2 separate regions of the Homo sapiens genome follow, and region 2 is linked to region 1. The links come from fine-mapping of genetic effects on gene expression. Tissue or cell type: whole blood. Region 1 holds a variant in brackets; the other region holds the start of a gene. All regions are shown on one strand. Distances are from middle to middle.

What was found. PIP is the estimated chance that this variant, and not a neighbour inherited with it, causes the effect.
Region 2: ZNF366 starts here. The variant in region 1 is fine-mapped to the expression of ZNF366 in whole blood (TOPMed, PIP 0.96).

Annotation. Positions count from the first base shown.
Region 1 is chr5:72,372,894-72,378,971 of GRCh38, reverse strand. It overlaps the pseudogene RPL10AP8. Among named protein-coding and RNA genes, the nearest start is that of PTCD2, 56 kb to the right of the region's middle. The variant T/C (reference allele first, on the strand shown) is at 2,834.
Region 2 is chr5:72,504,165-72,510,242 of GRCh38, reverse strand. It overlaps ZNF366 (zinc finger protein 366), which reads left to right and starts at 2,833. Exons shown (of 5, transcript NM_152625.3): 1 at 2,833-2,992.

The sequences.
Region 1 (6,078 bases):
TTCAAGTGCCGTGGAACTGAATCTGCTAATTGGCATCTTTTGTAAATTTCTTAGGAATTACAAAAAAAAATTGTTATTCAGGAACTCCTTCAACTGTCTAACAGTGAGTCATGGCAATGCTATAATTTCCCGTCCGTGAACTGCTTGGCTATTTTCCAAGTACTCCTATTGGGTTCCACTCCCCTGAGGCTGAAATTTCAGTGTGCCATTGGCAGAGAATGAGCCCTTATGCCCCGGCCTCTGAGCTTTGTCCTGAGAAGGTCTTATGATCTCTATATTCCTGACCTGGCCCATTCCTTTATGACACCTTTAATGAATAGAGGTGAATCTGCAACACTGAACATAAACCTTATGCTCACATGCAAACCTATGCTATGGCCCATATGATAGAAATTAGTTGATTTAGGAGCTTGGGTAGACATGCAGGAAAAAGGAGTTAACCTTTACTGAGCACCTACCATGAACCTGATGTGTATAGAGAATTTGGTGTATAGATGAGGAACCTGATGTTCAGAGAAGGTGAGACACCTGCCCAACAACACACAGCAAGCAGGTAGTAGAGCTAGAATTTAACCCAGATCTCTCTAATTCCAAATCACACTCTTTGCATCATATGTTGAAGTTGGTGGTTGAGAAGGGGTTAGAGGGAGATATTCCAGATGAAGAAAATGGAGACCATTACAGGTAAATATGTGGAGGTGGGTAAACAGAAAGTGGTGTGGGCACTGGAGTGACAGATTTCTGTTGGAATAGAGGGAGATTAAATGTCAGAGGCAGCCAGATTCTTGCACAATATAAAGGCCAGGCCAGGGCGTAACTGACATTTTTGGAGGCCTTGGGGAGTCACTGAAGGCAAGGCAAGGCATGACGTCTCCAAGGCAGCTGTTCAGATTAGAAGGATTAGCCTGGAGACAGGTGTCAGATGGATTGGGATAGGAAGAGACTCGAGGTGATTTAGGCACGCATAACTGTGGAGGGCCCCTGTAATCTCAGGGAATGTTTCACAGCTGGCTTCATTTTATTAAGCAAGGACCCTTTTTAGTCCCTCTCCCTCCTCATCTCTGTAATAGTCACGAGCTTAAAATTGCCTGTCCTCCACAGAAACTAAGTTTGCTGTACAGCATCACGTTTGATGAAGAGAAATTCTGTCAATTTTTTTGTAATAATTTCTATCTGAAGCCTCCGAATGCTGTGTTTTTGATTTTTAAAAACAGAACTACTCCAAAGGGTAGCGAGTACTGGGAAGCCGAGGCTGTGGTCTAAATTTCCCCTGAAAGTCTTAACCACGGGTGAGATTTTGTATGTGTATCAATCATACCATTTCCATCCTCATTCTCTGTTCCTGTCACTCCAAGTGTGAGAAGAGATAGATGATTAAGATAAAGTCCAGTTCCTAGGACTTTACCTTCTATTTCTCCTTTTTCTTTTCCAAAGTAAAATCACCATGAAATTACAAGACGTTGCAGGCAATTTGGCTAAGGTACTTGTGGATTTGCTTTGGGAAGAGTAAAAATCAGCAAATGCTTTCTTCCCCGCATTTTGCAGCTATTGAGGGTATTTATATAATTTGGGCATGGCTAACATAAAGAGTATTGGTGCTGAAACATATCTTTCCTTTACCAGAGATTAAGTATCAAGTTTGGCGATGAATTAGTTTGTCAGTTTTATTGGTGAAAAAACTGAAGTGGAGTTTAACCCCTGGACTCTGCGGGGCTCAGTAATCATGTAGGTGGAAATCCAGTGGATAAAAATGGCAGCAGGATCGTGGCACACCTGTAGTCCCGCCTACTTGGGAGGCTGAGGAGGAAGAATTGTTTGAGTCCAGGAGTTCGAGACCAGCCTGGGCAACGTAGCAAGACCCCCACCTCTACAAAAAATGTTAAAAAAAATCAGCCGGACATGGTGGCAGGTGCCTATAGTCCCAGCTACACAGGCAGCTGAGGCGGGCAGATCTCTTGAGCCCAGGAGTTTGAGTACAGCCTGGGCAACAGAGTACTTCTCTCTAACAAGAAAGAAAAATGGCAACAGGTTGATCTGTGTTTTCCTTTTGCCCTAGGCTAAATTTGGAGCCCCTCTTCCTTGACACACTTGAGGTAATAAAATTCACAGCTTTGACAAAACCACTGGAAGAGGTCCTTCAAGCAAAAGTTAAACTTGTGGTCTCCCCACCCAAGGAAACAGCAATACAACCAAAGCAGAAGCCTTAATTGGCTGCCCTCAATGTGGAGGGTATTGTGCTAGGAGAGAACTTAAATAACTTTTCCTTAAGAGTGTAGTGTCAGATAAATTGTTTACTATAATAGGAACAGTCTTCACTGAAGCAGAGGTGAGTTATTCTATTTAATAATTCCAAGAGCACACTCTTTACCCAGTGCTTTCTCTGCTGAGTCTGAAAAATCAACTCACTGCATTCTTTAGTGCTTAAAGCACAGGTCATTAGACTCACTACACCCAGGGACTCAATGAAATGGCTACCATTTTCAGGGGACTGTGAAGATGTCAAGATGTGAAAGCAACCTCTGGCTACCAAATCAAGGGGCTTTGCTGTGAGGCCTGGGTCAGGCCAGATGCTGGGTGATTCTCAAACCAACACCTTCGAATGGTCTACTGGTTAGGATCACCATGTCCCCTCATGGTCCCATCACAGCTGGATTGGGCGGACCTATGGGGTACTAGAGTTGTAGGTAGGAATGGTGAGAAATCGTTCAAACAGAATGGAATTGGTCAAGGCCAGATTTGTGCACAGTCCTATTTGGTATCCAGTTCAAATCCAAGGAGGTCATCATGGTGGGGTCTCGTCTATATATTTGCACCTCTGGGAATTTGGGGGAGC[T/C]AAGGCAGACTGTCCATAATAGAACTAATGACTATTGGTGTTTAAAGTCCTTGGGAAAAAATAGTGGGAACTTTGGGATTCTTGAACAAAGAAAGGAGGCGTGGCCTGTGTCAACTACTCAGAAGGAAGGAGTGCCCCAAGCAGGCAGAGAATTCATCTTCTGAGGTGAAGGAGGGACATAGTTCATATTCCCCATATTGAGACACCTTTTTTTCCTAGTCAAGGGATGCTTTTGTGTATGACAAAGAGCTGTCTTTCTGCCCAGGGCACTTGTAGATTCCTACATTGAGGTTGTCTCAAGGGGCCTTAAAAGTCTGTGGTCACTTAAGGGTCAGACAATTGAAAGTTACCTGAAGGAATTGTATTTGCTTGGGGTGGGGCTGAGATCCAATACCTTTAGTTTTGACAGGAACAGAGCAGATCAGGGACTGCAGGAGAACTGAGGACAGGAGGAAAGAATGACAGCAATTGTTGAGAAATGGAACACCCCAGAAGCAGCGGCCAAAACTCTAGGGAGATAGCAAGGATCGCTGGGGAATGCACGGGACTGGGGGTTTGGAGTTACAGTAACACAACTGTGTGAGAACTTGAAGCCAAATGTCTCTGTGCCCATCACCCAAGCTGTGAATATCGCCAAGGCATGTGTAGCCTGAAAAACCAAGGGTTTCTCTCAAAACTTTGTCAAATATTGGCTACTTTAAAAATGTTACCATTTTCATCAGTTTTGTGATGTGAAAGGCTTGGGAAGGTGGATTCATGCCAGGGATTCATGTGGACAGTTTGCCAGCTGCTGGGGGTGAGGAACAGAGAAGGGACCCCAAGATTAGCTCTTGGGGCAAGACTTGTCCCTCTATGTTAAGAGATGACCTACATACAGGACACAAGTAAGAGGAGATTATCTGACTTGGTGTCCTGTGATATTCTCTGAAAGTTTGTCTGATGTGGCAGATAGCACCAAGATGACAGACATTCTCACCTTCCTCAGGTCAGGTGAGGATCTGAAAATACTAAGTTGCTGAGAATGTCCTCTTTAGTTACCTCTTCATATCTGGGGAAGGGGAAGTCCTGATTTGGTTAAACCAGTCATCTTGCCCTGTAGCCCCTGTGAACAGAGATCAGTCAAGAACCGGAACTGACCATGTAGGAGGTGACTCCATTGATATTTGTACAGCCATTTACAATAAGCATGTATTAATTACGTATTTCTCCGTAACAAGTTACCCCCCAAATTTTGCAGCTTAAATCCACAATAAACATTTATCTCATATAGTCCCTATAAGTCAAGATTTCAGGAGTGGCTTAACTGGCTCTCTTGAAGTTGCAGTCAAGAAATCGCCAGGACTGCAGTCATCTGAAAGCTTGACTGGGGCTGGAGAATCAGTCTACAAGATGGCTCACTTGGATGATCACCTCATGCTGGCAAGAAGCCCAGCTCCTCACCATCTGGACTTCTCCATAGGGCTGCTGAAGTGTCCTCACAACATGGTGTCTGGTGTCTGGCTCTCCCCAGATCAAGTGATCCAAAAGAGAGCAAGACAGAAGCCTCAGTAATTTTTGCAACCTAGTCTCAGAAGTCACACTCAGGCAATTCTCCAATATCTTATTGGTCACATAGATCAGTCCTATTCAGTGTAGGAGGGGACTATATACAAGGGCATGAATACCAGGAGGTCAGAGTCACTGGGCCCACCTCGGAGACTGGCCACCAAAAATAGCCACTACCTATCAAGAGCTTACTGTGAGACAGGCACCTTGCCAATAACCTTACATACAGTAATCCTTCAGAGTTATTGTTTTCTTACTCTCCTCATTTCTACAGATGAGGACACTGAAGCCTAGAGAGGGTACATGACTTCCCAAGGATTTTCCATGCTGAGCTTGCCTTTGGTTTGCACCTCTAAGGAATAAAGTTCAGGTCATATTTTCATTCAGCACACAGACATTGAGTGTCTACTATGAGACAAGCACCGTGTTAGGCTCAAGAATATGAGTAACAGCCAGACCCAAGCCCTGAGGTATGTGAAAAAGTTACAGGCACAAAAATGGCCCTGTGTTTAAGGTATAATCTGGCTCTACAGAGGAAGTCGCCAATTATTTGAGGATAGGAATAGGTCAGAAAAGTCTTATTGTATGGGTGGTACTTGAGGTAAGTCTTAAGGGGTCAGGAACATTCTCAAGTGGGAATGTGCCAGAACTTCAGGCCTGGAGTAGGAGCGGGGAGTTCTGAGTGATTCCTACAGAGCACGTGGGAATCTCCCATCTTCATCTTCTAGCTTTTGGTCTGTGTTTGGTGAAGCCAGATGACACTTTATCGTATGGCCAGCCTAATGGAGCTGGGGGTAGGTGTGGGTGGGGCTAGAACCAGGAGACTCAGGTTTTATGTGCTGTTTTCCCATCCACCCCCTGTATGATCTCTGGCAAATTCTTAGCTTACCTATGCTTTGGTTCTGGCTTCTGTTAAATGAGAATAAAACAATCTTTCCTCACATTGCGGAGGGGGAGGAGCTGGAAGCATGGTTGTGACGATGTCAAATGCAACTGAAAAATTTAAAGCTCTCCTTTCTACATGATCTGAAGTCAGAGCTACTTCCACTGCAACACACTTCTTCTCTGCCACCCCACTCTGCCTGCACCGTACAGACACAGAAGGGCTATAACTTAAAATTTTGTTTTCAGTTACTTTTAGCCAAGGGAAAAGAGTCAACAGCTCCTGAGGATGTTTGGTACACTAGGCTCCCTCTGAAAAAATGTGCAAGCACTTCAGTTGTCCATCTAAAATTGTTACTGAAAAAGTTGGGTGATGGGAGAAGAGAAAGAAGTCTGCTGTTTGCAACTGTGCCATCGTCATCTGTGCTTTGTGCAGCTCTTTCAGGACAACTATCAGGTGGATGACACTACGATTCTTACAGTTGCCATGCATTTCGTTCTCTGAGAAGTCAAGCACATTCTTTTTTTTTTTGATGCAATAATGCTGCAACTTATTATTTTTATTGCAGAAGCAACTAAGCAATATTTTTCCTGTGAACAGCACTCTCATGTATATGTAAACCACAGTCTGCAGTTCCTCAAAAAAAAAAAAAAAGAAAGGGATGCTGAATATTCTTACTCTCAACTGTATGCATATAGGGTACAATTCAATGTAGAAGTCACCACTGCCTTCCTATGCATACCCTGGGCCCCCATCCTCACCATCATCGGCATAGGTGAGCAACTAGATATTTTGGCCAAGCAAAAAAATCTCCCGG
Region 2 (6,078 bases), 130 kb before region 1:
AAGTTAGTCTGGGAGTCAACAGATAACCCCAGAGTCTGTGTCATTGGAAGCTGGTGCCATACAAATTAGGACGCTTCAGAGGCAGGACGCCATTTTGAGTAGAGCACCTATTTCTGTGGTGCTGGTTCTGAGGGTTAGGGTCACAGCACTGTCCTCACCTAGGTTTCTCTCCTGTCCTCCTATCTCGTCCCAGGGGTGGGCAGCTCCTCTCTCTACTCAAGTGATCTCTATGATACGCTGTGCAACATGGGGCTTTCCTGAGGGGTGAGAGCCAAGGCCATATGCCATTCCTGCTCATGCGTCTCAGTTGGATCCTTCACTTTTAGTCAGGATCCAGATAGGCCAGGACAGAGTTAGAGCTCCAGTGGACTGATCAGAAATCTGTCCTGCCAAACCTAATGGGAGGGTTAGGAATTTCTGCTCCTGACACCCAGTGGGTGGTTTCACAAGTTTTAGAGGGTGACTGTTCAGGTGACTGGCAGCACAAGGAAAGAGGGAAAAGCCTTTTCTGTGAATTTCACAGGCAGGGTTGCAACGCGGTGTGAGCATGGAGCAGCTTGGCACAAGGCAGCCTTGAGAGTCCCCTGGCTGGCTGCGGGGATGATGTCAGATCCCGACTGGATGCTGCCCCATTCAGTCAAAGCCGTGCAGCCTGAAATGGCACATGTCCCCATCCAGGCTGTCTGGGCGGGTCAGCTGGCCTGGAGACAACAACACAGCCTCAACGTGACAGTCCCCACATTCTGCAGACTTAAAAGGGAAATCCTTTGGATTCTGCCTGGACTCCTGGGGCTCAGCCCTGGCCTTGCCTTGAGGGTGCAAAGAGGAGTAAAAATATGGGAAGGCCTGTGTGCAGCTGCAATGGATTCTTCAAGTGATCAGAGGCGGTTTCCTGCCTGTGAGGAGTTGGTACCATGAGCGTCTTGTTCCTTGGGTCCCTCCTTTCCTCTGCTGCTGATGCCCCGCACACCTTGCCCCCTCCCTATTGCTTCTCCTCACCCCACCTCACTCCCAAGGACGTCTGCTTTTTTATTGTGAATTTCAGCTGCCTGCTTGTTTCACCTCCGGTTACTCAAAGGTTTGCCCCAGTGTTTCTCCCCCTTTAAAAGACTCCATTCCTAGGCCTTCCTGCTCCATTCCCTCATGCCCTTCCCTGGCTTTCTCAGATTTTCATTTTCATTTCCCTTCCCATTTCTACAAAGGCAGGATGTAGAGGAAGGCCAGCAGAGGGCAAAGAGCCCGAGAGCCGGGATCAGGAGACAGGAACGTGTTGGCGTGTGGCTCTAAGCGAACCAAAGAGACTGTCTCTGGTCATCCGTGTTCCCCACTGTTGGTGAGGCTGGGTCACCCAGGCCAGAACTCAGTGCCATGGGTTGTGCCAGTGTTGGTGCTGTGGCGGATGCAAGGAATGGGACTCTGCTCTGGCTTGTGCACACCTACCGAGTAACAAAATCTTCATGTCTCTCTCTGATACATGCACACATATTCAGATAACTAGATAGACAGGGAGATAGATAGATATATGGATAGATTAGATAGATAGATGATAGATAGATAGATAGATAGATAGATGATAGATAGACAGATAGATGATAGAAAAATATCTGTCAGAATAAAAACATAATCCTATAGGCCAATAAGGACTCAATCAAAATCTTACAGGGTCACTGAATCAGAATCATTCTTCCCCTGAACTCACTTTCATGACTCTTTGCAATCAGGTGTATCTGTCCACCCCATTTTTTTCACAGTTGGGTGAAATGAGGAAGTAGTGTAAGGCTGGTTTTTCTTTTGCTGCCACAAAGGTCTACATAACTGCTGGTTCCTGTTCACAGTGAAAATGGTCCTAACCAGATGAATAAGGGACACAAGAGACATAACACAAATCAGAGAAGTTAAAACCAAGCTTATTCCTAAGTGCAACTAGCCTAAGCAAGCTCATGCCTGCCTGCTGAAGCCCCAAGTCTTCTACCTTGATAAAGGTTACTCCCTCCATTTTAACTGCTCCTGCCTCCCCTATCTTTTTTCGAACACCATGGCTGATTTATCTAAACCCTATGCTGCTTCACAGTATTTTGAAAACAAATTAGAAATCTCCTTCCAGTTTTCCAGAGGTGATTAAATCCAAGACGCCTTAGGAATGTAGAGGATAGAATAATATAAACAACAGATCTGAGATAACCATGGCCGGCAGCAGTTGTGGTTAGTTGCTTCTTTTCCTTTTTCATCCATCAGTGATGGAAGCTGGATTGGGTCCACTGTATAAAGTTCGGTGGGCATAAATCTGCTATTTGATCCTGGAAAAACTCTAAGGATCTAGAGTCAGCGAGGAATTGCAGCAATGCTGGTGTTTCAAAGGGCCTAAGAAAAGCCAGGAGTCCTGGCTGCCCAGCCCCGACACTGTCTTACAGGCTGCAGGTTTACCTTGGTTAGCACAACAGGCCAAGCTCTCCCTTGCTCTAAGTCGACATGACATGATTTGTTCCCTTTCGGCTGTGTCAGTTCTGCAAACCAGATACCAGAGGCTGCAGGCTCAGGAGAGCCTGCCTGTCTGGAACACCGTTTGTTTGGACAGGACAGGCCACTAAGGCGTTTCATCTCTTTAAAGCTCCCAGGGCAGAGAACATATTTGAGGAATTCCTTTTTTCAAAGATTTTTTTTTTTTGCCCCTTCCAACATTTTGTTTAAGAGAAAATGAGATGTCTATCTTCTGTTTCCTTATTTTTTTTCAGGAAAGCAAAGGGTTGTTGACTTCCTCCCTCTCCCCTCCCTTCCTTCCTTCTTCCCGAAGGTACTCATCTGAGAAAAAGAGAACGAAGTATTGTTCCTGTTCTCTTTCTTAAGTCATTCGAAACACTGTCCCTGCGAGTTCTTTAAGTTCCCTGCAATCTGTACACAAGAGAAAGAGGGAGAGAGAGAGGGAGAGAGACAGAGAGAGCAGGGATCAGGTAAAGGAGTGGGGCTGCTGCAGCCATTCAGACCTCAGGAGCTGGTAAGTTACCCATGCAATCATTTCTGCTTCCTTTTCAAGGTTCCTGGGTGGATACTGCTGTGGGCATCTTCAACAGAAAATACCTTACTGGGAGTAGTCCTTAACCAAAGGGTATAAGTGATAGATGGCCCAGAATTTCAGCTAATACTTTTTTTTGGTAAGAGAATACTGATGCTTTGCAGAACTAAGGCTGGCAAAACTAGAAATAGAATTACATTGGGACTAAAGAGGACACTGCGTTAAATCTGAATTTTGGCACAGATCATGTGGCTGGGAGAACCAGGAGCCACTGGCGTGTGAGATGTGTCCCACTGGAGAATTTGCTCTTCCTCAGTACTGTGTCCTGGGAGCCTTATCAGGGTGTCTGTTAAGGACTGTGGTTTGCTCTGGGGTTTTTGTTAATACGTTACCTGGATTGAGGTGCCCTTCTCCTGTTCTTTTCTTTCCATTCAGCATCCCCCTAAAGGAGGATTGTTAATTGTTATATGATGGTTATTCTGCATCACTGAAGTAGAAGGGAAAGAGAGAAGGGAATGTCACTTGGAAATAGTTCTGCATGTGGGGAGCTTATGTGTTCAGGTTCCCCATGCGGGTTGAGTGTAAATTTATTATTCACTGTCAGTGGAAGATGTCATCTGCCACATGATAGAAGGCAAAGGTTTTGGGGCATATAGCTTTAGTTTTGGAAAACAATATGCAGCTAGAATGGGAGGATTAAGATGGATCATTTATGTCAGTAGGAGGGAAAAACTAAGTTACAGACGCAATTGAAAAGCATTCACCCAGTGCCTGGTTTTCCAAGCACCAAATAGGGCGTAGCAAGCTAGTCAAGCTAACATACACAACTAGTTTTTAAAAGTCTAACTTGCTTCAATTAGATTAGTCATAAAGGATAATGTTACCAGCACCTATCATCGCAAGCCATGAGGGAGCCGAAATCATGTTGTCAAAAATAGGTCAGCAAGGTCACTCCGAGAGACTCGTTATGTTTCCCAATATTAATACTTTAATTCAGAGAGATGCCGAATGGGTAAAAGCCAATGGCCAAGCATACTTTTTAAAAATATTCACTGCTATGAAATTTACTGATTGAAATCACCTGGGATGTGAAGAATAAGATAAAAATAGCTGGACTCTCATTTTAAAAATTAATTTGGCTAGACTATGCTTTAACCACATTCAAGTAATTAATCTTTATTCAAAATTGAACCATCATCTTACTAAGGATGAGAAAACATGACAGAACTAGACTGTGATGTAGCTTTTGTTCCATTAGTCAGACCTCTTTTTTCTTCTCCTTTTTTCAAGGATTTTCTTTAGGAGCATCATAAAACGAGCAATGTAAAGAGACGTGAATAGCGTTTGCCAGCTTGCGGATGCAAAATTATTCTAATAACAATTGAAAGTGTTTTACTGCTACCCTACCACCTCCCCTAACTACTCCATTTCCATAGATCTTCAGATCAAGAGGTAGCTGGAATAGATTGTCGAGGGCATTATTGCATCATTTATCAGCAACTGTGGCCCCAGAAGAAAACGCAGGTCTGCGATCTTGACTTGCTCCTTTCAGTTTCATTTCTCTTGATAATGTATTGAATTTTGTGCTCAACTAAAACAACATCACAGAACACATTCTAGTTTTGTTTACTGAGTAAAAGCATCAGATGCAACACAATAGGAAACAAATGACAGCAGAGTCATTTGTTAAAGACAAGGAAGGCAATTAAATTAAAGACAAGGAAAGCACAAGGTGGGTAGGCCAGTGGCTCAGAAAACAGCCCCACTGCTAGCATGACTATGGCTTGAGATTAAGAAGCTGAGGATATGCAGTTTTCTTTTAAAGAAAAAAGTGTATTCAATATTTCCATTTAAGTTGTTAAGTCATTGCTGTGAAAATATTTCTTGGATACTGGGGGAAATGAATTTTAGCTACCCGAAGAATAAAAGCCATCGACTAGTTTCATCGAAGTCACTACCACTCAATCTATCTTTACTCACTCACCGCCAAAGAGTGAGTTGGCATTTGTGGAAACTTCCAGTGTGTGATTATTTGGGGGTCATCAGAGGCTCTTTTGTGATATCATTGGGGGAATTCCAGTTTGAAGTGATCCAGAATTTGAGACACACAGTATTTTATTCGTTAATTTCTGCCAAAACTGTACACATAACTAAATTACAATTTCTTATACACATTTTAAATTATGTTAGGATGTGTGTCCTGTAGATCTGTGTGCTGGGATGTGAGTCAAATTAGAGTGAGTAGAGCACAGTCTCTGTTGTTGTACTACTTTTGGTTTGAATTTCAGCTTCGTTGCCTACTGTTTATGGGCCTCGGGGCAGGTACTTAACTGCTCTAAATCTCAGTGTCCCCAAATGTAAAATTGCGTCAACATAATGGAGTTGTGAGAATTAAATACAACTATCGGCATAAAACACTTAACATAATGTTTGGCAAGTAGTAGGAGTCAATCAGTGTCAGTTATATATTTTTTAAGGGTCATATATTAACACTGAAGAGTACTGTATTTTGTTAATACAGAGAACAGAATGAGTCTCCTATAATTTGTGTCATTATTCTTGCTTAATACTATACCAAGGATCTATCAGAGCAGATATTATTCCTCACAGCTTTAGAGTTGGGCACACACTGAGTGAAGATATTCTAAATTCTAAATTCTTATAAAATAAAAGAGTGTAGAGTTTAATGTATTGATATTCATCTTCACGAATGGCAGAAATGGCAGATTTAGCTTCACTGAATGCAGCTGTATTCAACACAGCTCAATGCAGGGGAAAGTTTGTCTCGGGATAAAAGTTTTCAACTTAGATGAACGTGCAAAGAGAGTTCAGTTATATTGTGGACATTTTATTCTCCCTTTCACCCACTTCCCCAACTGCTTGAGCTCTGTGTTATTGGTGACCTTTTCCCTGGTTGTGGAGGGCTGGAGACACTTTTTTTGGAGACCATCGTGGTTGTACCATGACTCAGCTAAAGAGGAAAGGACTTAAAGTGACACATTCTCCTCCTGCCCAGGGCTGAGCACACTTGGGGTTCTCTCTCCTCAAACATTGTAACAGTGAGCCAC